Regions from separate parts of the Homo sapiens genome. Here regions 1, 3 and 4 are each linked to region 2. The links come from fine-mapping of genetic effects on gene expression. A gene starts in region 2. Each other region holds a variant in brackets. All regions are shown on one strand. Distances are between the middles of the regions.

Region 1 (7,944 bases), 110 kb after region 2:
TCAGCCAGGTATGCTGGAAAAGCGCTTGGCACAGAGGAGGCTCTTGAGAAGCCTTCGTTCTTCTCTTCTCTTCCTTCCTCTCCTTTGTTCACTTCAGAGATCTGAAGTCAGCTGCCACCCCTGTCTATTTTCTTCTACTGCTTTCCTCAGCTGTCCTTGAGCCTGATCCCCCTCCCAGGCCTCCTCAGTCACCCGCTGCCTCTTTCCATCATTCCCTTTGTCGCCTGTGACCCTGAGGAGGGGTGGGGGCTTAGGACAGGGCTTTGCATAGGATCTGGACTAGTTGTGGGAATTTGGGCAGGTAACTTCCCTTCTCAAGCCTCAGTTTCCTAATTCGAAAAGAAAAAACATGGGTAAGGTCATGGCAGCTCCCACAGAAGATGGCGAGAAATAAGATCATGCGTAGGCCCAGCACATGGCCAGAGCAGGAGAAAGCAGGCCCGGGATGGGTGAGCCTGCGTCTTCCTCATTCCTCAGGGTTGGCACTCTGAGGCCGTGTGGACTTTCCAGCCTCAGTTTACCCTCCTACAAAATAAGGACGTCATCCCTGCCCTTCCCCCATCGTAGGGTGGCTGGGAGGGCTCTCCCTGCCTAACTGGGAGATGGACGACTTTTCTTTGACTTTTTCTTCCTCCTCTTTATCTGTATTCTTGGGTTTTTCTCGGTGGGGGTAGGGTGTGCTTCTTGCTAGGTGTGGCAGCTACTGATAACTTTGCCTCCCTGGGGCAGGCCCTCTCAGAGGAGCCACCTGGGCTAGGACTGGCTGCCTGGTGGGAGGGGACTCCTGGGGCTGCCCAAGGTGTGGTTGTGGGGCCCTTATGCCTCCCAGCCAGGAGTGGGGAGAGAGGACTCCCCCACCACCGATTACCAGAAAGACCTCCTGGCCCCTTCCAGAGAACCCTGGCTCAGGAGCCTGGCGTTGGCGGACACAGTGCCTAGCTGCAGCTTCTGGGCATTGAGCTTTGCTTGGACACAGGAACTTTCACTTTTGTTTCTTTTTACTTCCCATATTCTGGGAGTGCAGTGACCTAGTTTTTAGCGGCCTTATATGTCCCTCTCTGCCGAGGAGACTTGAGGGCCTCCAGCACTATGGGATCCAGTGCAAACTGACTCCAGCACTCAGGCTGCCTTTAAACTGGCTTCCCCTTAGCAAGCCACCTACTCCTCTGTCTCCCCCTCCTCTTCAGAGCCCCAGGATACACGTGGTCCCTTCATCCTGGCTCTTTCTGTGCTGTTGCCTCCTCCATTCATGCTTCCTGAGCCAGGAACACCTCCTCCAGGGAGTCCTCCTTTCCTGACGCATTTGTGGTCACCACTGCACGTGCCACTCAGCCTCATGCATCTCCCGTGGTGTCCCACGAGACCCACCGTGGCCTGTCTGGGACATGGGAGCTAGAAGGGACTTTAGGATGGGCCTGGACAACCCTGCCACTCAGATGGGGACCCCCGTCACCTTTGCGGTGTCACCTATACGGGCCCTTTCCCGCACACTCACACTCGTTCTGATCAGCGTCTCCTGAGAGAAGCTTGTTTGGGAAACTCCTGCACGTCTTGGGTCAGTTGTTCATCTTGTCTCCTCTCACTCCTACCCCAGCAGGACCTTATGGGATCTCAGGATTGGAAGGGACTTGAAGGTCCTCTGACTCTCAGGCCTGAGTCCCTCCAAGAGGGACTCACCTGCCTGAATTCCTTCAGTGGTAGAGAGCTCACTACCTTGTGAGGTAGCTCCTTTTGGTCGCCAGAAAGCTTTGACTAGGAAAGATCTTTCTTAGGCTGAGCTGAAATCTGTCATCCTGCCTTTCTACCCACTGGCCCCAGCTTTCCCCTCTGGGGCCCCAGAATTCATCAGAGGCCTCCACCGTGTCTTCCAGAGGCTGATCCTCTCCAGGCTGAACATCCCCCATCCTTGTACCAATTCCTCATCAGACCCCTCTTCCAGCCTCAACACACCTCAAATCACCACTGCCTCTTGCACAAAACAGGGACCAGGCTGGGGAAGCAGCCCGTGGCCCAAGAACCCATGGGTTCCTGGAGGCCATGCTACCCAGCTGACCCTTCTTAAACTGGTCAACGAGACCCCCATCTGGGTCCCATGAGTTGCTATGGCCCCTGGCATTTCCCTGTGAGATATTCTTTAAAAGCCTCTCTGACTCCTTATCCCAAATACCACATTACCATGCTAACCCTGAAATCTTTTTGTTTATCATGGTAAAAATGCATAGCATAAAATGTATTATCTTAACCATTTTTAAGTGTACAGTTCTGTAGTGTTAAGTATATTTACATTGCTATGCAACAGAGCTCCACAACTTTTTCATGTTGCAAAACTGAAACTCTATACATGTTAAACAACACCTCTGCCTTTTCTCCTCTCCACTGTAGACCTGAAATCTTTGTTTTTCCTATTGACAAGGGCTTGGTCCGTCTGTTGGCCAGGAAGTCCCGATACTTCAGGTTGTAGCTCCGCCCTCTGCCTTAATGCCTGTCCCCATGATCAGTTTCCACCTCCATGTCTCCCCACCTCTGCCTGTCAACCAAAACCTCACAAATCCTGGGGTTCAGAGCCCCCATATCCCTGCCCTGCCCACATTACTCTGACTGGACCTCACTGGACAGCCTCACTGAGCCCAAGTTCTAGAGCTTGCGCCGCGTACTCTTTGTCTAAGCGTCTACTTCCTCCTTCTCAGAAGGCCCACGGACAGCTCCACCATGCAGGTGTGACCTGCAGTTACCTTCACCTTCTGGGTCTGTAGCTCCCGGGTCTGCAGCCCCCAAACCCCGCAAAGGCAAGCCCTGGGTCTTCTTTCCCTCACGTCTCCTCAGAAATTCCATGGGATTTGACTTGGCCCAGGAGACATGGGAGATCTGGCTATGAGAAAAGGGACTAGGACTCCCTGTTGCATCATCTCCTCAGTCTCGGGTGAAAGGCAGCAGAGTAGAAGAAAGGCACCAGTGAAGGTGAGCTGGGGCAGAGGAAGAGAGTGGCACTTCCTTTATGGTTCACACCCTTCCTGCCACTACCCACAGCCAGTCTTTGAGGGACAAGCCTGTGGCCTGATGGGACCAATTCAGCATAAGGGCCCTCTGTGGCCCTCACTCAGAACTCATCCAACTCACCCCCATTTCCAGAGAAAGGAACTCCCAGATTCCTGAGTATGGTGCTCAGTGTCTTCATCATAGCCTGGCTGGCTAGCCCCTGTTCAGATATTTCTGGGGCCTCATATTGGGAGTTGCCTCCTTCCTGATCCCATGTTAGGTTAATCTCCAAGTTCCTTTTGCACCTGTGCTTACCTGCATCTTGGCACCTATCACATGGCTAGTGTCTGTTTACAAGGCTGCCTCCCTTCCGTATGGGAGCTCTTTGAGAGCAACACATGGCTGACTTGTCTCTGGACCCTTAGCACACAATATGGGACATGGCACAGGGGAAGCACTCAGAGAGCAGATGAACAGTTAAATGGAGGATAGATGGATGGACCTTGGATGAATGGTAGATGTATGGATGAATGATGCTGGATGGATGAGTAATGTTAGATGGATGACAATGTTGCATGGATAGATGTATGGAAGATATTAGGTGGATGGGTGGGTAGATGGAGGGAGGATGTTGGATGGATGGATGGAGGATGTTGGATGGATGTATAGATGATGTTGGATGAATGGTGGATGGACAGATGAATGGAAGATGTTGGATGGATGGATGGTTCGAGGATGTTGGATGGATGGATGGATGGGGATCATTTCAGATCCAAATTGGTATGGCTTCTGTTCACTATTGATCTTGCTTGCTTTTGGCTTCACCTACTTATTCTCTCCCTAACCACAGCCTCCTTGACTTTGCCCTTTCTGAGATCATGACCTAATTGGGCATGGGCTTCACCTTTTCCCCCACTGCAGCCCTGGGCCTGCTGATCATACCACTCACCCTCCCACCAACTCCACTTTCTTTGCTACACTCTTCTCCTATTCTGCATCTTAGTCCATTTTCTGCTGCTATAAATTACACTGGGTAATTTATTAAAAAACAGTTTATTTGGCTCACGGTTCTGGAGGCTGGGAAGTCCAAGAGCATGGCATTGGCATCTGGCGAGGCCCTCATGCTGCATTATCCCATGGAAGAGCAGAAGGGCAAGTAAGCACTCAAGACGGGGAGAAGATCAGCCCAAACTCATACTTTTACCAGGAGCCCAGTCCTGTGATAATGCCCTCTAATCACCTCTTAAAGATCTCACTCCTCCGCATGGTTACATTGACAATTAAATTTTAGCATGAGTTTTGGAGGGGACGTTCAAACCAAAGCATTCTGCCCCTGGCTCCCCAAAACTCATGTCTTCCCCACTTACAAAATATATTCACTCCATCCCAATAGCCCCAAGTCTTAACTTGTTCCAGCACCAACTCAAAGTCCAAAGTCTCATCTAAATTAGATACAGGTGAGAGTCAAGGCACAATTCCCCCAGAGACATATTCCTTCCAGCTGTGAGCCTGTGAAATCAAAAGAAGTTATCTATTCCAAAATACATTGGTGGGACAGGCATAGGATAGATACTCTCATTCCAAAAGGGAGAAATAGGAAAGAAAGTAACCAGTCCCAAGTAAGTGCACAACCCAGTAGGGAAAACATTCAATCTTAAGGCTGGAGAATAATCCTCTTTGATTCCCTCTCCTGCCTCCTGGGCATGCTGAGTGGGAGTTGGACCCCAGGGCCTCAGGCAGCCCCACCCCCATGGCTTAGGGCTGTCCGGCTTCAGCTCTCGGGTGGAAGCCTCGTGCTTGCAGCCTTCCCAGGCGGGCGTTACATGCCGGTAGCTCCACAGTTCTGGGGTCTTGGGGC[G/A]GCTGCACTTCTACAGCTCCATTAGGCACCGTCCTAGTGGGGACTCTGCGGTGGCTCTGCCCCTGCAGTAGGTTTCTGTGTGGGTCCCCAGGTTGTCTGATTAGATGGCACCCACCCACGTTGAGAGTAGATCTTCCCCACTCAGACTCACACACCAGTCTCCTCTGGAAACACTCTCACAGACACACCCCAAAATAATGCTTTACCAATTCTCGAGGTATTTCTTAATTCAGTCAAGTCAGCACCTAAAACTCGCCCTCACACTCTGCTTCCCCAGGGCTGTCCTTCCCTCGTCTCTTTGTCTGTCTCTCTGTCTCCTTGGCTTCACCCACCCAGCATAGGTGCCCTCCTCCCCAGCCAGGAGGCCTCTTTCTGGACTCCCAGCTCTGGCCCATTCCAGTCCCCTCTGCTCTCCCTAGGTCCAGCCTGAGATACCCGGTCTCCTTCAGATATTTTACTTCCAAAGTCCTATTGCTGACTGTCCAGGTCCCCAAATCTGCTCTGTGTTTCTGTGCATCCTCCACTCAGCAGCCAGCAAGGTCTTTGAGAAACACATGGAGCTCACTGCCCTGCTCCCTTTCAGTGGCTTCCCATTGCCTTGGATAAAGACCCAAATGCCTAACAGGGCCCATAAGGCCCCACATGATCCACGGGCTTTAGATGTGCAGAGATGTGGAGCGCGATGCCAGGTAGGGTGAGCAGTGGCGTGGAGCAGGGCCACTTGGCTGGGGTGCCAGGTGTTGGAGGGGAGCAGCAGCCTGTCCACATGGCCTAAGGTTTGAGCTGGGTGTTGCTTTCAGCATGCCATTATACTTTTGATGAGTGTTTTCTCTGCACTGAGCCATTCTCCATTTTGCAATCATTCCAGCTTCCAAACAGTTTCATAATGAGGTCCTGAAGGCCCACAATGAGTACCGGCAGAAGCACGGCGTCCCCCCACTGAAGCTCTGCAAGAACCTCAACCGGGAGGCTCAACAGTGAGTCCCCTAGCACATCCGGGTAACTTGGCCCTTCATGTGCTGCTACTGCAGTCACAAAGGGGCCCTGTGGCCAGGCACGATGGCTCACACCTGTAATTTCAGCACTTTCAGAGGCCAAGGCGGGCGGATCACCTGAGGTCAGGAGTTCAAGACTGGCCTGGCCAATATGGTGAAACCTTGTCTCCACTAAAAATACAAAAATTAGCCATGTGTGGTGGCATGGGCCTGTAGTCCCAGCTACTCGAGAGGCTGAGGCAGGAGAATTGCTTGAACCCGGGAGGTGGAGGTTGCAGTGAACCAAGATTGCGCCACTGCACTCCAGCCTGGGTGACAGAGTGAGACAACATCTCAAAAAAAAAAAAACGTTGGGGGGCCCTGCATGGTTTTGGGGACCGGGTTTTGGGATCAGATATAACCACACTTGAATAACCACTCTCTCACTCACCTGGGCAGGTCCTTTTAGTTCCCCTGAGCCTCGACTTGTTCCTCTGTGGAATGGGACTGCTGGGAGGCTCAGAAATCATGCAAGAGTGGTGCTCCTCTGTGAGCCCGGGGCAGGGAAGGAAGCTCAGCCACACTAGCTTGGGGCACATACTTTGGGGGTTCCCTGAACTGCACCTGCTCTGAGGAGGCGCTGTGAACTCTGCAGGTATTCTGAGGCCCTGGCCAGCACGAGGATCCTCAAGCACAGCCCGGAGTCCAGCCGTGGCCAGTGTGGGGAGAACCTTGCATGGGCATCCTATGATCAGACAGGTGGGTCGCATTTTCAGCTCCTCTCCTCTCTGCGGGAGCTGGAAGAAGGACAAGTCCTCCTGAAATGCCTCCTGGCCCCAGCACCCTCGTGGTGTAGCCACAGGCCCAGGAAAGGAAAGAAAAACCAGAGCTCTCTGAATCTGCTCCCAGGCTGACTTCAGTTCACCACAAGGTCTCTGATGGCTGGCTCAGTGCCAGGCCTGTGCTGGGTGCCAGGGACACAGAGATGAGTCAGACTGACCAGGCCCCCACTTTCGGAGAAGCTCCCAGGCCGAGGAGTGGGGGTTGGGGAGACAGACCGCTTTTGTACAGAATCTCAGCCTGATTCTGTGTCCACCAGAGCATCCCCAGCTACTGAGAAATGTTATTTTCTTCCCGAGAAATTTTACTTTCTTACCGTACTGGTGATACACTACCAGTAGTGCTGGTGTATTACTTTTATAATAGGAGAAAAGCAATAGAGCTTTTTCCATTTTGGAAAAAAAAATAATAATGGAAAAGACAATGTCTCCATGCAAGGTCTCGATCTGGAATGATCCCACCATGCTGCCCAGACATTCTTGAGCTTCCTGGCCCTCTGGCCCTGACAGCCCTGATGTGGCTTTTTAGGAAGAATATTGGAGAGCTGTCTGGATCTCTGAAGCTTTCTCCAAACACCAGTGGGAGAATGACTCACTCCCTCCCCAGCCTCACATTCCTGGGAGATCCCCCAAGTCCTCTTGGTTTCCCCAGCACAGCCTAAGCCAGGGCTCCTGTGCAACGTGGTCCTTGGCACCCCCACTGGGAGGCATGTGTGAACTCCTGGGGAACCCCCTACCCACCCCTCCCTCCAAGGCCTTGCCCTCACCCTGCAGGCTCCTTCCCAAGTCCAGGCTGTGGCCCTCGATGGGCCCCGGGAGAAGGGCATAGGTTCAGGAGACATGGTCCATTCCAGCCTCGCACAGCCTCCCTCGGGAGCCTTGAGCAGGTCCCTCCCTCCTCTGCCCCCAGTTTCCCATCTCTACAGAGAGGGGGTTGGGTAGGTGGTCTCTGAGACAGTGCTTCCCTACTCTGGTCGCACATTGGAATCTTTTGTGGAGCTTTAAAAAAATACCAGGCTGGGCACAGTAGCTCACGCCTGCAATCCCAGCACTTTGGGAGGCCGAGGTGGGTGGATCACCTGAGGTCAGGAGTTTGAGACCAGAATGACCAACATGGAGAAACCCCATCTGTACTAAAAATAGAAAAATTAGCCAGGCGTGGTGGCACATGCCTGTGATCCCAGCTACTCGGGAGGCTGAGGCAGGAGAATCGCTTGAACCTGGGAGGTGGAGGTTGCCGTGAGCTGAGATCGCGCCATTGCACTGCAGCTTGGGCAACAAGAGCGAAACTCCGTCT
Region 2 (7,883 bases):
CAATTCTGCTCCGAGGCACAGGGACCCTTCGTTCTCCAAGGCCTTACTCCCAGTTATTAAATTAACAGTGAACATGACACACTAGCAATTGGAAAATGTCTCTGGCTGGTAGTTGCTTTCAAGCAACCACTTCTAGAAGGGGTGATCAAATCTTCAATGGACAGTTAGTTGACTCTGCATATCCCCTTCCTGCCGAATGACTAAAACTAAATCTCAGTAAGTTCAGTGGGATCTCAGTTTAGTCAAGGCCTCTCACAAACCCCTCCCCAGCTTTGAGAGGTCTATATAGAGCCAAAGCCAGCAACTGGGACTGGAGAAGAAGACAGGACATGTGGTCCTCAGTCATCATCATCAATCCCTGTTGACATCTGCATTCTCATCTGGTATCCATTTGTACAGATGATTCAAATAACAGATACAGCCTCCTCATTCCAATCTTGAGGTCGCTTCAGGCTCTCAGCTGTCTCCTACCTTGCATCTCTTGAGGGGCAAAAAAACATTTGGCTGCTCTTCTGTGTGGAGCATGAAACAGGACACATTTGCAGCCATTTCTACTCTATACCTACATCGTGTTAAGTGCAGATGAATTTTATGAGGTCTGTCATTTCCTGAGCTCCACACAGCAAGGAGAATCAGATCCCCTCTTATCTCGTAGTCTCAAGCCTTTCTGGGGATTCTATGTCCCACCCCACTGCATCAGAAGAAGGAGACCAGAGACGCCTTCTTTTCCTCCAGTGGCTCTCCTCCTTCCACATCAGAGTGAATCAAATTGCTGGGGACTGAGGGGGTAGGAGGGACTGTGTCTGACTAATCATAGTATTCTTCCATGTCTGTTCTTCATACAAATATTTTATGCTCTCAGCTATAAAATAGACCACGTTCTGATATTTCAAAGGCTTTTTCTCTTTAAAGCCATTGTCTCTGCCTGAAATTTTAAGTGTATGTTTTTTAAAACCAAAAGCTAGGAGTTGTCCTCTTTGACTATTTTTCTACTCTAATGATCATCTCTGAAGATGTGAATGCCTTGCCCTCATGTTTTAGTTCTAATGAAGGAATTACTGGGAACAGAAAATACATTAATATTTCACAAAATTGTCCTACTGTACACATATGAAATCAGATGCCATAAAGTCTTAGTTAACTAACTCAAAATGGACCTCTTCCTTATTAAGCTAGGTCAATTAATCATGATCAAATATGTTCAGGCTAAACAAAGTCAGAAAAAGTATTTCCATTAAAGATTGGCTTTAGAAATTTACTATGCAAAAGTTCTAAAAAACAATACTCCTATTTAATTAAAACTACTTAAACATCTGCCATATTCTTAATTTTAAAAGTTTCTCTTTCTGAAACAGATTCAGGCTCTGCTGCAGGAAGCAATTAAGAAATGAGGATATTTGGCCAGGAATGGTGGCTCACAGCTACAATCCCAGCACTTTGGAAGGCCGAGACAGAAAGATCACTTGAGCCCAGGAGTTCGAGACCAGCCTGGGCAACATAGTGAGACCTCGTCTCTACAAAAAATCAAAAAAATTAGCTGGGCATGGTGGCACACACCTGTTGTCCCAGCTACTCAAGAGGCTGAGGCGAGAGGATCACTTAAACCTGGGAGGTTGAGGCTTCAGTGAACTGTGATCATGCCACTGCACTCCAGCCTGGGTGACAGAGCAAGACCCTGTCTCATTTAAAAAAAAAAAAAAGTTTGTGTGTGTGTGTGTGTGTGTATGTATAAAAGAAATAAGGATAGTCTGTAGTCTCAGACAAAAATATCTGCCCTCATGAAGTAAGGAAACAAATAATAAACAAGCAACACTTTGGGAAAGTAAGTAGTATATTTTATAATATTATATATTAGAACCTATTAATATGGTAGAAGGTAATCATGGCTTTTGAAAATATAAAGTGTGAAAGGGGAGAAGAAGTTCAGAGGTGGGGTTGAGTTTTAATTTTAAGAAGGGCAATTAAGGAAGGCCGTTTGAGTTAAGACCTAAAAAAGAAAAGGGAGAGTGTACAACTATCTGGGAGAAATTAATTCCAAGCAGAAAGAACTCCAAGCACAGAGGTCCTGAGGCAGGAGTTACATGGAGCAGTTAGGGAAAGGCCCTGAGCAAGATTGGCTGGAGGTGATGGCTGGACACGACAGAAACAGTAGGAACTGAAGTCAGAGATAGAAGAAGAGGAGGAAAGGTGCAAGACCTTGAGAACCATGGTTTTTTGGCTCAAAACAAAATCATTGGTGAGTAACATTCTTTAAAATATCGTACTCATCTCTAAGCATTAACCTTTTTTTAGAATGAAAGATAATTACACTACTCTTACAGTGCTTAAAATTGCATATTGGGGCTGGGCATGGTGGCTCATGCCTGTAGTCTCAACAGCTTGAGAGGCCGAGGCGGGAGCATTGCTTGAGTCCAGGAGTTTGAGAACAGAATGGGAAACATAGCAAGACCACATCTCTACAAAAAATAAAATAAAATAATTAGCTGGGCATGATGGCATGCACCTGTAGTTCCAGCTATTCAGGCAGCTGAGGTGGGAGGATCACTGCAGGCCAGGAGTTCAAGGCTGCAGTGCCCCAGGACTGTGCCACTGCTCTCCATCCTGGGCAACAGAAGGACACCCTGTCTCAGGAAAAACATAATTACATTTGTGGTTCACTTTGGGCTCACACGTGTAATTTTAAGTTTTCTGATAGCTACATCTTAAAAAATAAAAAAAATAAGAGTAGATACATGTTATTACACCTTCGTCTAAACCCACAGAATGTACAACACCAAGAGTGAATCCTAATGTGAACTATGGACTTTGGTTGATGATGTGTCAATGTAGGCTCATCAATTGTAACAAATGTACCATTCTGGTGCAGGATGCTGACAGTGGGGGGAGGTTTACATATGTGGGGGCAGGGACTGTCTACCTTCTGTACTTTCCACTCAGTTTTGCTGTCAACTTAAAACGGCTCTAAAAAATAAGGTCTACTTTGCCTCAACCTCCTGCCTCAACCTCCTGAGTAGCTGGGACTATAGGCACGCGCCACCACACCTGGCTAATTTTTGTATTTTTAGTAGATACAGGGTTTCACCATGTTGGCCAGGCTAGTCTTGAACTCCTGACCTCATGATCCACCCACCTTGGCCTTCCAAAGTGCTGGGATTACAGGCATGAGCCACCGCGCCCAGCCCCTGTCAAGAGTTTTAATGCTTTCCAGCAGCCACACATCAAATGATTGCCATCAGGATTAGACAACTTGAAGAACTTACCCCAACTGCCAAAGCCTACATGTGATTCTACATCCCAATGTAACTACTTATTTTTTTTTTTCTTTTAATTGAGATGGGGGTCTGACAACGTTGCCTGGGCTGGCCTCAAACTCCTGGGCTGAAGTTATCCTCCCACCTTGGCCTCCCAAAGTGCTGGAATTACAGGCATGAGCAACTGCGCCCAGCCGCAACTGTTAATAATGATAGCATCATGACTCTTTGGCCCAGTGACTGTGTCAATAGTGGTACTATTACTCTCAGAGGGGAATTGTTAAAATAAATTAAAATGAAGACCAGGTCTGCAGAATTCCTGAGCAGATAGTCAATTTAGTCCTCATAAGTGACCTTAAACTTACTTGAGTTAATCTGAGCTATTTCTTGTAAATGCATATATTAAAGAAAAACAGAACAAGCTCAACCAATCAGAAGTAGTCCACAAACTTGTATAACTAGAGGCTTTTTAGTGGGATAGACCAAATAAGGCAACTTTATAACTGTAACCAATCAAATATTTTCTTTTTATTACTTTCCCATTCACTCTGTAAAAATCTGCTTCTTCGACAGAGCTGAGCCCCAGAACCACTTCTGGTTTGCAGCTTCTCAATTCATGAATCACCGCGTGCTGAAGTAAACTTTAAAATTTTATTGTGCCTCAGTTTACCTTGTACACAGAAGCAACAGAGTCATCAGAGGAGATGTTTTAGATATTTTAACTTATTCATGTTTTCCTTTTGTAAACTCGAAAGAGAGGATAAATGTAAGAGCCCAAAAACATAAAAACCAACTTTAATATATGGATTTTGTTTAGAACTTGAAAAATTGTAAAAAGAAATCATGAGACAATAAGAAAAATGTAAATAATGACTGGATATTTAATAATATTAAGGAATTTTAAAAATGTTTTAAGTAATTTAGCCCCAGGTGTCTTCATGAGAATTTAAAACGGTGGTCATGCTTTTTCAAAAAAGGAGGAAAAAGGGTTTAATTCAGGAACACACAGAGAAAAAAAGAGACAATGAATTAGCTTTGCTAGCCAGTGGCTTAAACATTCTCCACGTAGCTGCTGGGCTGATGGGTGGGGTGGGACCCACTTCCAACTTGTCTCTTGGACAAAGTCTATACTTCTCAGCCGGATATTCAAGGCTTTCCACATCTAGGTATACAAGCGTTCTCCTATCCTCTTTTCCTATCAGGAATAGGTGCTTAATAGTAACATCAAGGCCAGGCACAGTGGCTCACGCCTGCAATCCCCGTACTTTGGGAGGAGGAGGCTGGGGGATTGCTTGAGGCGAGGAGTTCGAGACCAGCTTGAGAAATATGGTGAAACCCCTTCTCTGCAAAAAAAATATAAAAATTAGCCAGGCGTGGTCACCTGCGCCCGTGGTCCCAGCTATTCAGGAGGCTGAGGTGGGAGGATCGCTTGAGCCCGGGAGGCGGAGGTTGCAGTGAGCCGAGATCGCGCCACTGCACCCCAGCTTGGGCGACAGAGCGACTCTTGCCTAAATAAATAAATAAATAATTTTTAAAGTACAACAAAGACACATTGAGGCTATAGTGCCAAAGAGCTCTAGTGATGAACCCTTGTCAGGGGGCCGTGTCTGCGGGAGGCCGAAGGATCCCGGGTGACATGCTTTCTTTGGGTGCGAGGCAGCGTCTCGGCAGAAAGAATATTGCGAGTATTACTGAGGGTACATGAAGGAGAGAAGCCCCTTTGGTTCGGCCTTGGACTAAGCCCTTGTTCTCAGGTGAACTTGCAGTGTGATCTTGAGTAAGGTCAGTCTCCTCTCTCACCTCAGTGGCCCGAAACCTCAGGAGGTGGCAGAGGTTTTCTAATGACTCTCCCAGCTCTGACATCCTCTGACTTCACTCTGGGAGAACGTGGGCTGGTGGACTCCTGGCAGAAGCCGACACACAGTTGGGCCATAACAAAGAGCCCTGGTACGGGGCACGTTCCCGCCCCCGGGAGGTTTTGGAAACACTGTGAGGCAGGGGGCGGGGCTTGAGCGGGCCGCAGCCAGTCACCAAAGGGCCGGGCGCTGGGGGCGGGGCCTCGCGCGAGCGGCGGCGGTAGCGGCGGCAGCGGCTGCGGCCAAGCTGGGTCCGAGCATCCCGCGGCTCTGGAGCCGCCCGGCCCGGACATGGCGACCGTCCGGGCCTCTCTGCGAGGTGCGCTGCTCCTTCTGCTGGCCGTGGCGGGGGTCGCGGAGGTGGCAGGGGGCCTGGCTCCGGGCAGTGCGGGTGAGTAACCTCCAGAGCAACGGTTCGAAGCTGTCGGGAGCGGCCGCCACAGCGCTCCAAGATGGCGCGGGGCAGGGGGCGGGGGTGCGCGCGACCCCCAGACCCTGCCCACGTCCGGCGACCCCGGGACCCCAGGTCTCAGCGCTCCAGAGGCTGGTGCCGAGGCGGGGCGAGTGAGGAACTCTCTCCGCCCCAAGATCTTCTGGGCGGTGACTCGGGTTTGAGGCCTTGGTCTGTCACCCACCGACACGGGCCCCCTCTTCGGCACTGACCCCTTCGCTTGCCTCTGCTGCTTGTCAGAAAAGGGTGCGATGCCCCCGCCCAGGATCGTCGCGAGGTTTAGATGGGATTTCGGATACGCAGCCGCCCTACCGCGGCCCTAGTTAGTTATTGTTACTTGTTACTTGACCCGCACTTGGTTCATAACGACCTTGGTGGCGGTGAGCACTGACGGTCCCCACAGCCCGCGTGGTGGGTCCTGGACTCGGGCAGGAGACATTAAAAATCAGTAAACCCTGTCCCCCGGGGGCTGGCAGGCTTGAGGAGAGAAATTCTTGCTCTACAAGAACTAAACCAAGGATGGATAGGAAACTGTTAAGTGCTTATTGATTGCTTCCCGCTTGCTGGCCTTTTGAGTGCACGCCGACTCCTTCCGTCCAAAAGCTCTCTCGGTAGGAGATGGGGTACAGCAGGAGATTGAAGTAACTCGAATTCAAGGCAGAAATGTCCAGAGGAAATGAAGGGCCATGTATGAGTGCACAGAGGGAGAGAGGACATCGACCTAGGATGAGTGGAAAGTGGAGTGATTCCCCCTAGCTGTACTAGACATTGAAAGATGGCTAGGACGTGTGCATGCAAAAGTGGTGAAGTGCATTGCTTACAGGGAGACAGGCAGAGACACCTTAAAAAAAAAAAAAAAAAAAGCAAAGTCAGCCGGGTGCGGTAGGCTCTCCCCTGTAATCCCAGCACTTTGGGAGGTGGAGGCGGGCGGATCCCTTGAGCCCAGGAGTTCGAGGCCATCCTGCTTAACATAGTGAAACCCCGTTTCTACTAAAAATACAAAAATTAGCCGGGCATGGTGGTGTATGCCTGTTGTTCCAGCTACCCGCGAGGCTGAGATACGAGGATTGCTCGAGCCCCGGGAAGTTGAGGCTGCAGTGATATGCCACTGCCCTCGGAAGTGAGACCCTGTCTCAAAAAAAAATCAAAGTCAGTTCCAACAGGGGTATTAACTATAGCTAGGTTTCAAATTTAGCTGTAAACTATCCCAAAGAATAAAAGAGAAAATGCTGTGTATTCTTGGCTAAATCAGATTACTTTCCTGGGCCCCATTTTTCTCCCTGTTAAATTAAAAGAGATTGAACTGAAACACTTACAAAATTATGAAATACTAGTTGTCCATTCTCCTCCCACAACCAGTCAGTTCTGCAGGAGGTAGTACAGTGGAGTGGTTAAGAACATTGAGCAAATTACTTAGCTTTAATCTTTTTGTGCTCAAATAGCCACATTTATTATAAATGGTACCTCACAGATTTTATTATGAGAATCGAGGTAATACATGTCCAGCATTTAGCGTAGTAAGCAGTGAAATATTAGCTATTAAGTATGTTCGGGAAATACTGCAGATGGTACCCTGTCTTATAAATTCACAAAACACATTAGATTCACAATAAAGGGTCCAAGGATTCCTGTGGTAAAACAAACAAACAAACAACAAAAAAAAAAACAAGAAACTTTTTTGCTGGGGGAATGGCAGTGATTGCTAATGAGTATGAAGTTTCTTTTGGGAGTAATGAAAATGTTCTAAAATTAGATAGTGGTGATGGCTACACAACTCTGTGAATATACTAAAAACAACTGAATTGTACATATTAAAAGGGTTAATTTCATGGTATACAAATTGTAGCTCAATAAAGTTGTTAAAGAAAGAAACTTGTTTGCTCATAAAATTCTTTTTTTCTTCATAACACCTAAAGCGCACTTCAGAAAATGCTGGGTTAGTTGATTTCTAAAGGCCCTTCTAAGCTCTAAAAGTTCATGACAACATATAGTTTGCATTGTTTGATAAAAAAAAAAAATTCCAAGTTTGATCTAAAAGTGAGACATGTTCCTTATACTAAATTCTAGGAAGCATGTATTGCCTGGTTCCTTACTAAAGGACATTGAGTAATATAATGGACAAAGGCTTCCACTGTGAATTGTAGAAAGTATAGAAAATGCTTTTCAATCCTAAACAGAATTAAGAACACAATATAAAATTGTATTTCAGTGAAGGCTTTGCTTGTATTCCTGCTCAGTCTTCCTTCCCTTCTTAACCGCATCCAAGATTGGGTACTTCTGTCTGCTCTGGTATAAGGCTTTGCAGGTTATTGACCCCCTCTATTA
Region 3 (7,553 bases), 92 kb after region 2:
CACATGAACTTAGATTTTACATGAAGTATTTTTTCAGTATTATATGTACCCTCTGAAATACATAGGGATATGCGTATTATACCAAAATGTTGCTGAAAAATGGGCACTTAAAGCTTTCAGAATATGTCAGTGCTGATGTAGCATGCTTGTTGCAATTGCCTTTTTTCTGTATAAATGTCTTTAATGCAATATACTGGAAAGCTTTTCTATTTTAATAAAAATAATTTTTATATGATCATGCATGCTTCTAAGCAATGTTGACATTCAAAAAGGAAACCACTGATCACCCTTAGGTGAGCTGTGTCCTTTGCTCGGGGATAAGAAGTCATGGAAATTAGCCGGGTATGGTGGCACATGTCTGTGGTCCCATCTACTTGGGAGGCTGAGGCTGGAGAATCGCTTGAACCTGGGAGGTGGAGGTTACAGTGAGCTGAGATCACACCACTGTACCCCAACCTGTCTCATACCTGAGACAGAGTGAGACCCTGTCTCAAAAAAAAAAAAAAGAAGTCATGGAGTGCTATTATCCCAAGCCAAGGGCCCTGGGAGAACAGGCCAGCTAGGACACAGTTGGTCAGACCAGAGGGCAGGCAGTGACAGAGAGTCAAATACAAAGACCCCAGCTTTCAGCCTTAAGGACAGAGAGAGCTTCAGGCCTTCCAAGACTGCATACTAGGCAGTTCTCCCCACTGTGCTGGTCCTGATGTTCCAGTTCCAGGGTACACCTGGGGCAGGGAGACCATGGGAATATGGAGATGGAGGGCTGCTGATGGGACCAGAGAAGTGGTACCAATCAGCTTAGGCTAAGTCCCCAAAACTTCAGTGGCTTACAACAGAGGCTTCTATTTTGTTCCCTTCACATGTCCATTGTGGGTCAGCTGCCACACCTGATACTATCTTCACTCCAGACCCATTCCAGCGTCCTCACAAAGGGCAGAAAAGAGACATAGAGGACCACAAGCTGGCCCTGAATTCTCTGCTTGGAAGTGATGCTGTCATTTCTTTCTACGTTTTACTAACCAAAGCAAGTCACATGGCCACTCCAGAGTTCAAAGGGTGGGGACATACAGTCCTCCCACGGTGTTTTGTGTGTGTTGGGGGAGGGACAGTAAGTATTTTGAATAACACTGTCTACCATAGACATCTTTTCTCATCAGGCTAGGACAATAGCCAGGACTGACAAGATTTTTTATTAGAGAAGTAGATGTTTCCAGCCTGGTCAACATAGCAAGAACCCATCTCAAAGAAAATGCAAGGCGTTTAATAGGACAGGTTGGAGAAGGTGATCAAATGGTACAGGCAACCTGCCATGGGAGGTGTGAGTTGGGGGAGGGAGCATCTAACAAGGGGGAAGACGCAAGCCCTCGAAAAGAGGGTTGGTTTGCACCAGGCCTGGAAGAAACCAGGAGACTTTGCCAGATGGCTTTGAGAAAGGCATTCTAAGTAGGAGGTACAGCTTGAGCAAAGGTGCAGAAACGACAGAGTCCAGGTCCGTTCCAGGGGTAGAACAGCAGGGCTGACATGTTGTGAGGGGCGTGGTGTGGGGAAGTATAAGGCAGATCCGATGTGCCCAGCTTGAATGCCAGGCCACAGTGGCATCCTAAGCCTCTGCCCTTGCCCTTCCAGCTACACTGACCAGCCTGGATAGCTCTAGCCTGCAAAGGATTGTGTGCCCCAAACTTCAGTGCCACGAGACCTTCAAGACCATCCACTGATCTTGTTACTAGGCAGTGCTTCCCTCTGTCCTGTGAGCACCCTGGACTCTCCTGAGGAAATAATAACTGAGCAGGCTGGGGGCCAGGGTTCCCTTAGGCCTGGTCCCCACCCTTAGAGTTCAGCCAGGGTCTCTTTCAGCTCCACTGTGGGAGGAAACTTAAACCCACCAGGAACACTGATCGTCACTGAAGAAACTGCACTTTCCTTCGTTTGATTCAATGCTTCTCTTTCAGCCTTGGGCTGATGGGAGTCAGGCCCACACACTCCCACAGAGGGTGCTCTAATTCTCAGAGGGACAGGAGGCCCCGCTGCAGGGGCCTTT[C/T]CTTCCCTGCCTCCCAGCTGCAGAAGAGGCTTGAGTTGTGCACTTTGCAAGCTGAGAGAAAGTGAAGGCAGAGGCGTCATTCCCAGGGATGAGCCAGTCCTTCCAGCAGTCCAGCAATCTTGGGGCTGGAGGGCAGATTTCCACGGTGCACACAGAGAGAAACCAAGAGTACAGGGACCAAGCTGTGGTTACACAGGGAGTCAGGGTGAAGCCACGGCCAGAGGCCAGGTCCAGGCTTTCCCTGGCACAAGGCAGCCAGGCAGGATTTGTACTTCTCAGAAATGGAACTGGCCATAAAGGAGGTTGCCATGAAGGTAGATGCCAGAAGGTGAGCAGAGTGAAACAGTTCCAAGGCCAGGTGAGCCTGGGTGGGTCTGAGCAAACAGGTTCAAGGAGCATCAGGAATCATAAAAAGTAACTGACACAGTTCGCCAGCTCACTTTCTAGGGCAGTTTAGGGAGTGCTTTTCACCATGTTGTCTCCCGGCCCAAAGCAAAACGCCTCACACAGAGAGCAAATGCCAAGTCTAAGGTTGAGTTTCATTCTAGAGCCCAGCCTCAGGGCATTAGGCTGATGGTGGAGAGGGTAGGGAAGGAAGCCTCACAGGGTGAACACTCTGTCCCCTGGCTCCACCCACTTTTCCATTATTCCAAAATGAAGTTCACTGTATTGTTTTTTCCTTGTAAAAGTTACGTGTGCACCTTCCCCCAAGTACTTGGAAATATAAATAAAGGAAAAAAAATCCCATACCTTCCTCTCCCTGCCTCTACAAATAAGTGCAGAATCCTTCTAGAGCCTTCTCTGTACATATCTATCTCTCTCTGTAATCAGGGCAAGGTACCTCCTCTGTCTGCAATGGGGAGGAGGTGGTTACCTCACTGCCCTGTGCGGGGAAATTGAGGGAAACGGTTTCATATTTGGGATGTTGTCTACTGGGCGGTACATCCTTGCCTAAAGGTTCATAGGTGGAAGCCCTATCTTGGCCAACACCCACCAGGTAATCAGGGGGTGGGTCTTTTCCTAAAGACCACCTCCTCTGTCTTCTCCAGACCAATCTCCCACTGAACTCTACTGCAAATGCAACCAGTTGCTTTGCCAAACAGAAGTGTAACCACTTAGGCAGGGCGCGATGGCTCATGCCTGTAATCCCAGCACTTTGGGAGGCTGAGGCAGGCAGATCACTTGAGCTCAGGGGTTCGAGACAAGCCTAGGCACCATGGCGAAACCCCATCTCTACAAAAAATACAAAGGCATGGTGGCATGTCCCTGTGGTCCTAGCTACTTGGGAGGCCGAGGTGGGAGAATGGTTTGAGCCAGGGTGGTTGAGGCTGCAGTGAGCCAAGATCATGCCACTGCACTCCCGCCTGGGCAACTGAGTGAGACCCTGTCTCATCCAAAAAAAAAAAAAAAAAAAAGAAGAAGAAGAAGGCTAACCATTTATGTTGGTCAGGGTCCTAGCAGGAAAACGAATGGTCCACCCAAATTAGGATTAATTGGAGGAAAGTTTAATAAAGGGGCTATTTATAAAGGTGTGGGCAGGATGTAGGGAAACCACAAGGCATAGTACAACACGCCAGGCCTCAAAGTGGAGCTGTTAGCACCTCTAACCCCTAAGCCTAACGGAGAAGCCATTGCTTCTCTCCCTTGGGTCTCCTCTCACAGCTCCCACTGGGAACCCAGTTGAAAACCCAAGGACCAGGCAGCCTGTGCTGGTAGTCATACAGGTCAGCCTTCTGGGGCAGAGATCAGGGCAGAGAGTGGAAATAAGGAAGGAAGTGGAGCAAAAAGAAGATACCCAGCACAGCAGGCCAGGGTGACACCAAGAAGAGCACTCAGTCGGTTGCACCACTCATTTTGGAGAAAGGGCTCTCGGCTTAACCCTTTGGACCATGTTCTGCTGAATGCTCCTTCCTGACCTTGCTCAGCCTCCTCAATTCCTCTCTGTCTTCCTCTCACAGCCCTTTATCAAGCCCACATTTGCCAGTGCCTCCACCCAGCTCCCTAAGAATTCGTCAGCCCTCTGCAACCCAAGAAAGCAGTCCAGGCCCCATGCCCCTTCTTGTCCCCCTTCTTGCTGGCACTCTTCTGACCAAAAGCCTAGAGCAGAACTGCAGTGCACTAGTGCAGGCTATTGCAGAAACTTCCTTCTGCCCGGGATTTGCTGGCTCTGAAGTGGAGGGCTGGGCTCTGGCCCCAAAAGGAGGGGAGTAGGGGGAAGGTGGACGCCTGGATCCAGCTCACCTTCTTCATCATCAGGAAGCTGCCCCACAGCAGGCACGCATCCTCATGGCGAGTATTCATGTTCTTCCTACAATGGCCCAGTCTGGCCACGTGTGAGCAGAGCAGAGAGTCCTCATGATAAAACGGATTTGGTCGTGTGTTTGTGAAATAAGCCCATATTGGGTGATTTTGAAACTCGTTGTTGTGGTTGCTATTGTAAATGTTTCCCCCATGACATAGTCCAACTGGTTATTGATACTATGTAATAAAGCAATTGATTTTTTAAAATTTTTTGGACCCCCTGGCTGTCATTTTAAATTTCATATTACTTTATATTTATTGGATTTTCTGAGGTTTTTCCAGGGAGAAGCCATAATGAAAACTTTGCTCTTTCTTTTTCAAAGAGATAAGATACCTCTTATTTCTTCTTGTTGCTCTAGTATTGGCTAGAACTCCCAGAACAATATTGAATAGCAGTGGGGACTGCAAGAAACCTTGTTGTGTTTTGGATTTTAATGGGGATGTCTCCATTGTTTTATTGTGAAGCATGACATGTTTGCTTTAAGCGTAACATGTTTTACTGTTAGTTTCAAGGGACTTCTTTTTATTCTGCTATGGAAAAGTAAGAGTTTTTTTAAACTCAGTAATAAATACTCAATTGTATCAAATATATTCCAGCATCCATTTACAGTATATTTTTCTTTGACTTATTAATATTGTGAATATATTTCTTTTTTTTTCTTCTCCCCGAGACAGTCTTACTCTGTCATCCCGACTGGAGTGCAGTGGTGCAATCACGGCTTACTGCAACCTCCAACTCCCGGGCTTAAGCAATCCTCCTGCTTCAGCCTTCCAAATAGCTGGGACTATCAGCACATGCCACTATGCCCAGCTAGTTTTTATTTTATTTCATTTATTTTTGAGACGTCTTCTCTCTCTGCCGCCCAGGCTGGAGTGCAGTGGCCGTGATCTCGGCTCACTGTAACCTTCCGCCTTCCGGGTTCAAGTGATTCTCCTGCCTCAGGCTCCCGAATAGCTGGGACTACAGGGGCTTGCTACCACGCCCGGCTAATTTTTTGTATTTTTGTTTTTGCGGGTGTTTTGTTTTGTTTTGTTGTGTTGTGTTTTTGAGACAGAGCTTTACTCTTGTTGTCCAGGCTGGGTGCAATGGCGCGATCTCGGCTCACTGCAAGCTCCGCCTCCTGGGTTCAAGCGATTCTTCTGACTCAGCCTCCCGAGTAGCTGGGACTTGCAGGCGCATGCCACCATGCCCAGCTATTTTTTGCATTTTTAGTAGAGGCGGGGTTTCCCCATATTGGCCAGCCTGGTTCCTCTTCTTAAATATTAATAATTTGTATTTTCTTAGAAAATTGCCCAATTAAGGAAAATTATTAGTGAGCAGTTGTCTATATGTTTTTTCTGAACACTTCTAAAAAAAGATTACATCCCCTTTTTATTACTAATGTGGTACATTTGAGTTTTCTCTTCTTTTAGACTTCTTTATTCATTTGATTTTGTAGTGATATATCTATTTGATATGTCTTCCAGCTCTAGGTTATATTTTTCAATCTTGCTCTTTATCTGTTTTCTACTATATAATTTTTTGTTTTTATCTACATTAACTGCTTTAGTCAATTTTAAACATCTTATAGCAATCTTATTATAGAAACATTTTCCTGTATTTGCTTATATTTATCCATGTATTCTTCTGTCCATCCATCTTACCTTTTATGTGTTTCAAAGTTGAATCCATTTAATTTTTTATGGATTCCGAAGTAAGTTGAAAACATCAATACATTTTACCCTGAAACACTTCCGCATTCATTCACTATTTCTTTATGTTTCTTTCCTTTCACTTATTTTTTGTTGTCTAGCTCCTTTAGTTCAGTGCTTTACTTTTCTTTTTAAATAAGTAATATAATAATATTTAAGATTTACTAACTGGCTGGGCACAGCGGCTCACACCTGTAATCCCAGCATTTTGGGAGGCTGAGGCAGGTGGATCACCTGAGGTCAGGAGTTTGAGACCAGCCTGGCCAACATGGTGAAACCCCGTCTCTACTAAATATACAAAAACTAGCCAAGCATGGTGGCACATGCCTGTAAGGTCTGTAATCCCAGCTACTCGAGAGACTGAGGCAGGAGAATCACTTGAACCTGGGAGGCGGAGGTTGTAGTGAGTCGAGACTGTGCCACTGCACTCCAGCCTGGGTGACAGAGAAAGACTCCATCTCAAAAAAAAAAAAAAAAAAAATTAACTAAAAAAATTAACTCTCATGTTTCAGGACAGTTTAGGGAAATTTTTAAATCAGACATCAGGGGAGAATCTTCTCCCTCCAGACCCCAAATTAGGTAATAGACTATTTTTATAAGTCAATGCATGTAAGATTCAGAATTCTAAGAAAAAGATGTCAATAAGAAAAGACTTTTTGGCTGGGCCCAGTGGTTCATGCTTGTAATCCCAGCACTTTGGGAGGCCGAGACAGGTAGATCACCTGAGGTCAGGAATTTGAGACCAGCTTGACTAATATGATGAAACCCTGTCTCTACGAAAAATACAAAAATTAGCCTGGGATGGTGGCAAGCACCTGTAATCCCAGCTACCTAGGAGGCTGAGACAGGAGAATAGCTTGAACCAGGTAGGCGGAGGTTGCAGTGAACCAAAATCATGCCATCACACTCCAGCCTGGGTAACAAAGCAAGACTCCATCTCAAATTAAAAAAAAAAAAAAGAGAGAGACTTAATTTTTTTTTTTTTTTTTAAAGACAGGGTCTCACTCCATTACCCAGGCTGGAGTACAGTAGCATGATCAGAATTCACTGCAGCCTTGAGCTCCTGGGCTCAAGCCATCCTCCCACTTCAGCCTCCTGAGTAGCAGGGACTACAGGTGTGTGCGCCACACCCAGCTATTTATTTTTAATTTTTTGTAGAGATAGGGTCTTGCCATGTTGTCCAGGCTGCTCTTGAATTCCTGGCCCCAAGCTATCCTCCCACCTTGGACTCCTATGGCACTGGGATTACAGGCATGAGCCATCCTGCCTGGCCAATAAGAGGGAGTTTTTCATTAAAATCCCTTTATTTTCAAGTCAAGGAAGTATTAAGTTATAAGAAGTTACTGTCTGTACTTTTTTTCTCAGTCCTTTGATGGTGAATCTTCTTTCCTTACAGGTTTCAACCCTCTGGGCACAGAGTCAAATATTCCCCTCTTAGGAAGGGTATACAAGGCCGGGTGCAGTGGCTTATGCCTATAATCCCAGCACTTTGGGAGGCCGAGGAGGGCAGATCATGAGGTCA
Region 4 (5,000 bases), 44 kb after region 2:
GTGTATGTCCTAAGCCCTCTCAGACTAATCAGCAGTATTAAAGTGGTAAAAAGATAGAGTTACATATAGTAAATTTAGGAGTCATTCATCAAAGAGGGAGATATGATCAGTCTATTAAATCATGATAGGTGTAACAGAATTTATTCATCAAATGCTGGTATACTGGAATGAAGGAACATTCTTTTGAACCTTAAAATGGGTAAAGAGGCAAGATGGTATTAACACTAAAGTGTTAGTGGTTAATGGTAATTTTCACATGATGCTGCCATGTGAAAATAGAAAAGATTAGTTCAACAAATTCAGGTAAACTTAGGCACAAAAGGTCTATTAATGAACATCAAGAGAAATAAGAGATGCTTGAAGAACATCTCTGAACTCTGGATGTGACATCAAGGGAAGCAACTGTGCCGTTTTCCTTTTTCTTCAGGTATTGGGAGACTTTTTCTGTAAGGGGCCAGACAGCAAATATTTTAGGCTTGGAGATCATTCACTCTCTGTTTATTCAACTTTGCCATAGAAGTGTGCTTAGCGTGAGGTAGCCATATAAAATATCTAAATAAGCCGGCATGCACCCATAGTCGCAGGTACTTGGGAGGCAGCAGAGTGGAGGCCAACCTGGGCAACATAGCAAAACCCTGTGTCTTAAAAAAAATTTTTTAATTTAAAAAAGTAGGTAAATGAAAAAAATAATTAAAATTTTAAAAGTATGTAACTGAATGGGCATGTCTGTCTTCCAATAAAAACTTTATTTCCAAAAACAGGTGGCAGGCAAGATTTGGCTTGTGTGCCATAGTTTGCCAGCCCCTGTTGTGAGTAAAAGCTATTGTCCATAAGTATTTCCCCTTTCTAGGCCTTGGCCTCTGACTTCTATTAAATAAGGAAGTTGGACTAGATGATTTCTCACATTTCGCAGGTTTTATCTCCTTTAGTAGTACCTCTCCCTGAAGCTAAGTGATCCACAGGCTGAACCACAGTGACATTTATTTGTAAAGTCAGTTTTTTAAACATCCAGGTTGAACAAATGTATAAGTCTCTAGAGCAGAGTTTATCAGTCTTGGCACCACTGGCATTTTGGTCTGGATAATCTTTTGCGGGAGGGAGACTGTCCTGTGCAGTGTAGGATGCTTAGCAGTGTGCCTGGCCTCTACTCACCAGATGCCAGTAGCACTCCCCACCCCTCAGTTGTGATAACCAAAAATGTCTCCAGGCGCTGCCAAATGTACCATGGGAAGCAAAATCACCCCTAGTTGAAAACCACTTCTGTGGAAAGTTCAAAAATAACTAGAAAAATATCAAATACTAGAAAATCAGGCCATGCAACCCAAGATAGCCACCAAGTTATCAAACATATTTATTCAGGTACAAGGTCAAAAAAAGCCAAACCAAAGGGAACAAAGATCTTATTAGAAGGAAAAGAGCAATGAGAATTGCATTCATCCAGTCAAAGAGGGCTAGAAAGTTGGTAGCCGACTACCTTTATTTTATTTTATTTTATTATTTGTTTGTTTGTTTATTTGTTTATTTATTTATTTATTTTGAGACAGAGTTTCGCTCTTGTTTCCCAGGCTGGAGTGTAGTGGCATGATCTCGGCTCACTGCAACCTCCGCCTCCCAGGTTCAAGTGATTCTCTTGCCTCAGCCTCCTGAGTAGCTAGGATTACAGGCATGCACCACCACGCCCGGCTAATTTTGTATTTTCAGTAGAGACAGGGTTTCTCCATGTTTTTCAGGCTGGTCTCGAACTCCCGACCTCAGGTGATCCTCCCACCTCGGCCTCCCAAAGTGCTGGGATTACAGGTGTGAGCCACCTCGCCCAGCTGGTAGCTGACTACTTTTTAATATTGATTTAGATCATTTTAAAAGTGTTCCTGAGTCCAGTGAATCCATTTAAATAGAGAGTTATCTATAATGCATAACTGAAAAGTCACACTAAAAGAAGGAAACATGAATGAAGAGAGATATAAACAAGATCATTGTTAATGAACACTAAGAATATTTACTTTTTCACTCCTGTTATATTGCTTGATGGAGTCTCTAGCAGAAAGAATTCATACTGGGTGAATTGAGGAACCCTTATCTATGAGGCCCAGGGTTTTCTGTTTTATTTTGCTTTAAATTGTTAAATCAAGTGTGGCATATTCCTACAATGGAATATTATTTAGCAGAGAAAATGAATGAATACAGCTTCACACAGCTACATAGAGGGATCTTTGAAGCTAGGTTTTAAATGCCAATAGCTGATCCTTTAACAAATCCCCATCACCTAGCCAGCTTGCAATATGGCTGCAATTAAAAGCCAAAATCGTCTCGTTTCAACAATAAGGGTGTGCTTGATTTCCTTCT[G/T]CCTGTAATTTATGCCCATATTATTTCTTTTAGGAAGTAATTATCCTCCCATTGTGATTGATTATTATTCATAGCTGACAAGCCCTAAATATCCAAATGGCTTTGTATAAGTTTTTCATTTTTGTCTTGTTTTGGGTTTTATTTTCTTTACATTGACTTTAATACAGGGTGGTGTTTTCTGAACAATAATCTAAGCACTCTAGAGACACTAATTATAGTCTCAAACTCGCTTTTGACTTTTTCTATTACCTGGGGCGGGTCTCTTTTACCCTGCTGAGGAAACAGTTTCTTCATCTGTAAAATGATAGATTCCCAAACTCTGGTCCCAGGATGGCTATAAAAAAACTGTATTTCAAGTCTTGTTTAAAATTTAGATTTCTGTGCCTCACCCCTAGATTCTGAATCTGTAGTCTAGGGTAAGGTCTAGGAAACTCAGATGATTCCAGTGTACAGCCATGTTTGAGAACAAGTAGAGATAATGTCTAAAATCCTTTCAAATCTAAAATGCAGTGGTTACATGAAATATATATTTCCCTAGATGTCATTTATTAGATTATTTTCTGGAAAGTTTTTATATCCTGCAAGGAATAATTAAGATTAATACATTGTAGCCCCTCCCACACACTTACAGCTTTACATAAACTTGGTTTGCTATAACTGGTCAGCTTATGGCTCCAAGTAGTCATCTTGATCCTGATATATGTTGGAAGATGGTTTCCCTTTTTACCAGAATATCATTTCATAACTTCTGTGTTTTCAGTCTTGGATTTAGGGAAGAATTAAATAGTTTTAATATCATGATTTCCATGTAACCATAAAGTGGAATTAAATTACAAATTCTCTCTGGTTGTTAATTTCTGTTTATTTGTTTTTCTTCAATTTACAGAATGCTCTTTTCAGTTGCATTAGCAGAAATGAAAGTAAGTATATTTGTCAATGGTTGTACAAACAGTCCAAAGATATAATTAGCCATCTGAAGCAATGTGCACAGCAGGATTCCGATAGGCTCTTTCCCATGGTGTATTTAGGTCATTCATGTATTATAACAATTCCCATGTCTTAACTGTAGATCTACAATGCAGATACTAAAGCTCAGTGTGCTAGAGGATGATCACAACCCAATAAATAGGCCCATTTTCAGAAGTTAAGTACACCCATGCTATATAATGTAGCACTTGCCGAGTGCTACGTCTCAGTTCATTCAACAGACGTTGATTGAGTACTTGGTCAGTGTGGGGCAGACACACATCTGTGGAGGACACGACCTGTACACAAAGAATGCTGGGATATGGTAGGATATGAGATAGTGTCACTGGATAAAGTGCTCCAGGAGTTCAGAGAAAGAAGGGATCATATTCTGCAGGGGTACTTAGAGGTGGCTTCATGGAGTTGGTAGCTGATCCCGGGCATGAAGGATGGGTAAGATGTGAACAGTGGAGAATGAAGGAAATGGAGATTGGAGGAAGGGCTTACAGGTGAAGGGAACAGTGAGAGCAGACAGACATGGGAAAACACATGTAAGGAACAAAGAGTTCTTTAGCTCAGCAGGAAAGTATATTGAAGGATAATAAGAAACATTTGCTGTCTGTAATTTATCTTCTATCCTTTCTAACTGAGGCTTAGTTCAAGATTTTCCAGGTAGTCTCAGGCATGTAATCTTATGTCCTCCCACACTGGTGAAAAAGCCAGCTGAATGGAGGAATCAGAAGATAGGCATCTTGTCCTGTTCCTATGTGTCTGTTCTTATATGTCCTCACCATTCCCCACCACCACCCCCAATGTATCCTCACTGAGGTTTACAGTGATAAATGCAGCCATTAATCATTGTTCTTTGGCCAGGCGCTGTGGCTCATGCCTGTAACCCCAGCACTTTGCGAGGCAGAGACAGGTGGATCACTTGAGGTCAGGAGTTTGAGACCAGCCTGGCCAATATGGTGAAAACCCATCTCTACTAAAAATACAAAAATTAGCTGGGCATGGTGGCACGTGCCTGTAATCCCAGCTACTAGAGAGGCTGAGGCAGGAGAATCGCTTGAACCCAGGAGGCAGAGGTTGCAGTAAGCCAAGATCGCGCCACTGCACTCCAGCCAGGGGACAGAGTGAGACTGTGTCTCAAAAAAAAAAAAAAAAATTTGTTCTTTGTGAAGAAAATGAACTCTTTGGCAATAAACACAATAAGTTTGGTAGTAGTTGCAAGTTTAAAAGAGGCGGTACAGTAGGTATGGAATAGTTTCCTGGTCTGGGAAACTGAGACTTGTCCTATATCAGTTCAGTCCTAGTTCAGTTTCTTTGGTTATGACTTTATTATTATCATTATCATTATTTCTGGAAGTCACCAGAATCCCTGCTCATGGGTCTTTGGAATTCACCAGAAACCTGATTCTGGTTCCTCCATATCTATCCCTAATAATTATCAAGAATTTCCTCCCTGCTTTCTCTCTCTCTCTCTCTCTCTCTCTCTCTCTCTCTCCTTTTTTCTTTTTGAGACAAGATTTGGCTGTGTTGCTGAGGCTAGAGTGTGGTGGCGAGATCTTGGCTTACTGCAACCTCCGCCTCCTGGGCTCAAACCATCCTTCTACCTCAACCTCCCTAGTAGTTGGGACCACAGGCACATGCCACTGCACCCAGCTAATTTTTGTATTTTAGGTATAGATGGG

Evidence for each region. PIP is the estimated chance that this variant, and not a neighbour inherited with it, causes the effect.
Region 1: its variant is the best candidate, but not a certain one, in a credible set for the expression of RECK in whole blood (INTERVAL, PIP 0.51).
Region 3: its variant is the best candidate, but not a certain one, in a credible set for the expression of RECK in whole blood (TOPMed, PIP 0.65).
Region 4: its variant is the best candidate, but not a certain one, in a credible set for the expression of RECK in whole blood (INTERVAL, PIP 0.62).

What each region holds. Positions count from the first base shown.
Region 1 is chr9:36,142,084-36,150,027 of GRCh38, forward strand. GLIPR2 (GLI pathogenesis related 2) reads left to right here. Exons shown (of 5, transcript NM_022343.4): 2 at 5,703-5,811; 3 at 6,464-6,567. Among named protein-coding and RNA genes, the nearest start is that of GLIPR2, 9.3 kb to the left of the region's middle. RefSeq lists enhancers at 6,423-6,472, 6,813-6,892. The variant G/A (reference allele first, on the strand shown) is at 4,835.
Region 2 is chr9:36,031,601-36,039,483 of GRCh38, forward strand. It overlaps RECK (reversion inducing cysteine rich protein with kazal motifs), which reads left to right and starts at 5,313. Exons shown (of 21, transcript NM_021111.3): 1 at 5,313-5,498. The coding sequence starts at 5,399. RefSeq lists silencers at 5,233-5,432, 5,443-5,592.
Region 3 is chr9:36,124,218-36,131,770 of GRCh38, forward strand. It overlaps RECK (reversion inducing cysteine rich protein with kazal motifs), which reads left to right. Exons shown (of 21, transcript NM_021111.3): 21 at 1-238. Among named protein-coding and RNA genes, the nearest start is that of GLIPR2, 8.7 kb to the right of the region's middle. The variant C/T (reference allele first, on the strand shown) is at 2,039.
Region 4 is chr9:36,077,376-36,082,375 of GRCh38, forward strand. It overlaps RECK (reversion inducing cysteine rich protein with kazal motifs), which reads left to right. Exons shown (of 21, transcript NM_021111.3): 7 at 3,230-3,263. Among named protein-coding and RNA genes, the nearest start is that of RECK, 43 kb to the left of the region's middle. The variant G/T (reference allele first, on the strand shown) is at 2,344.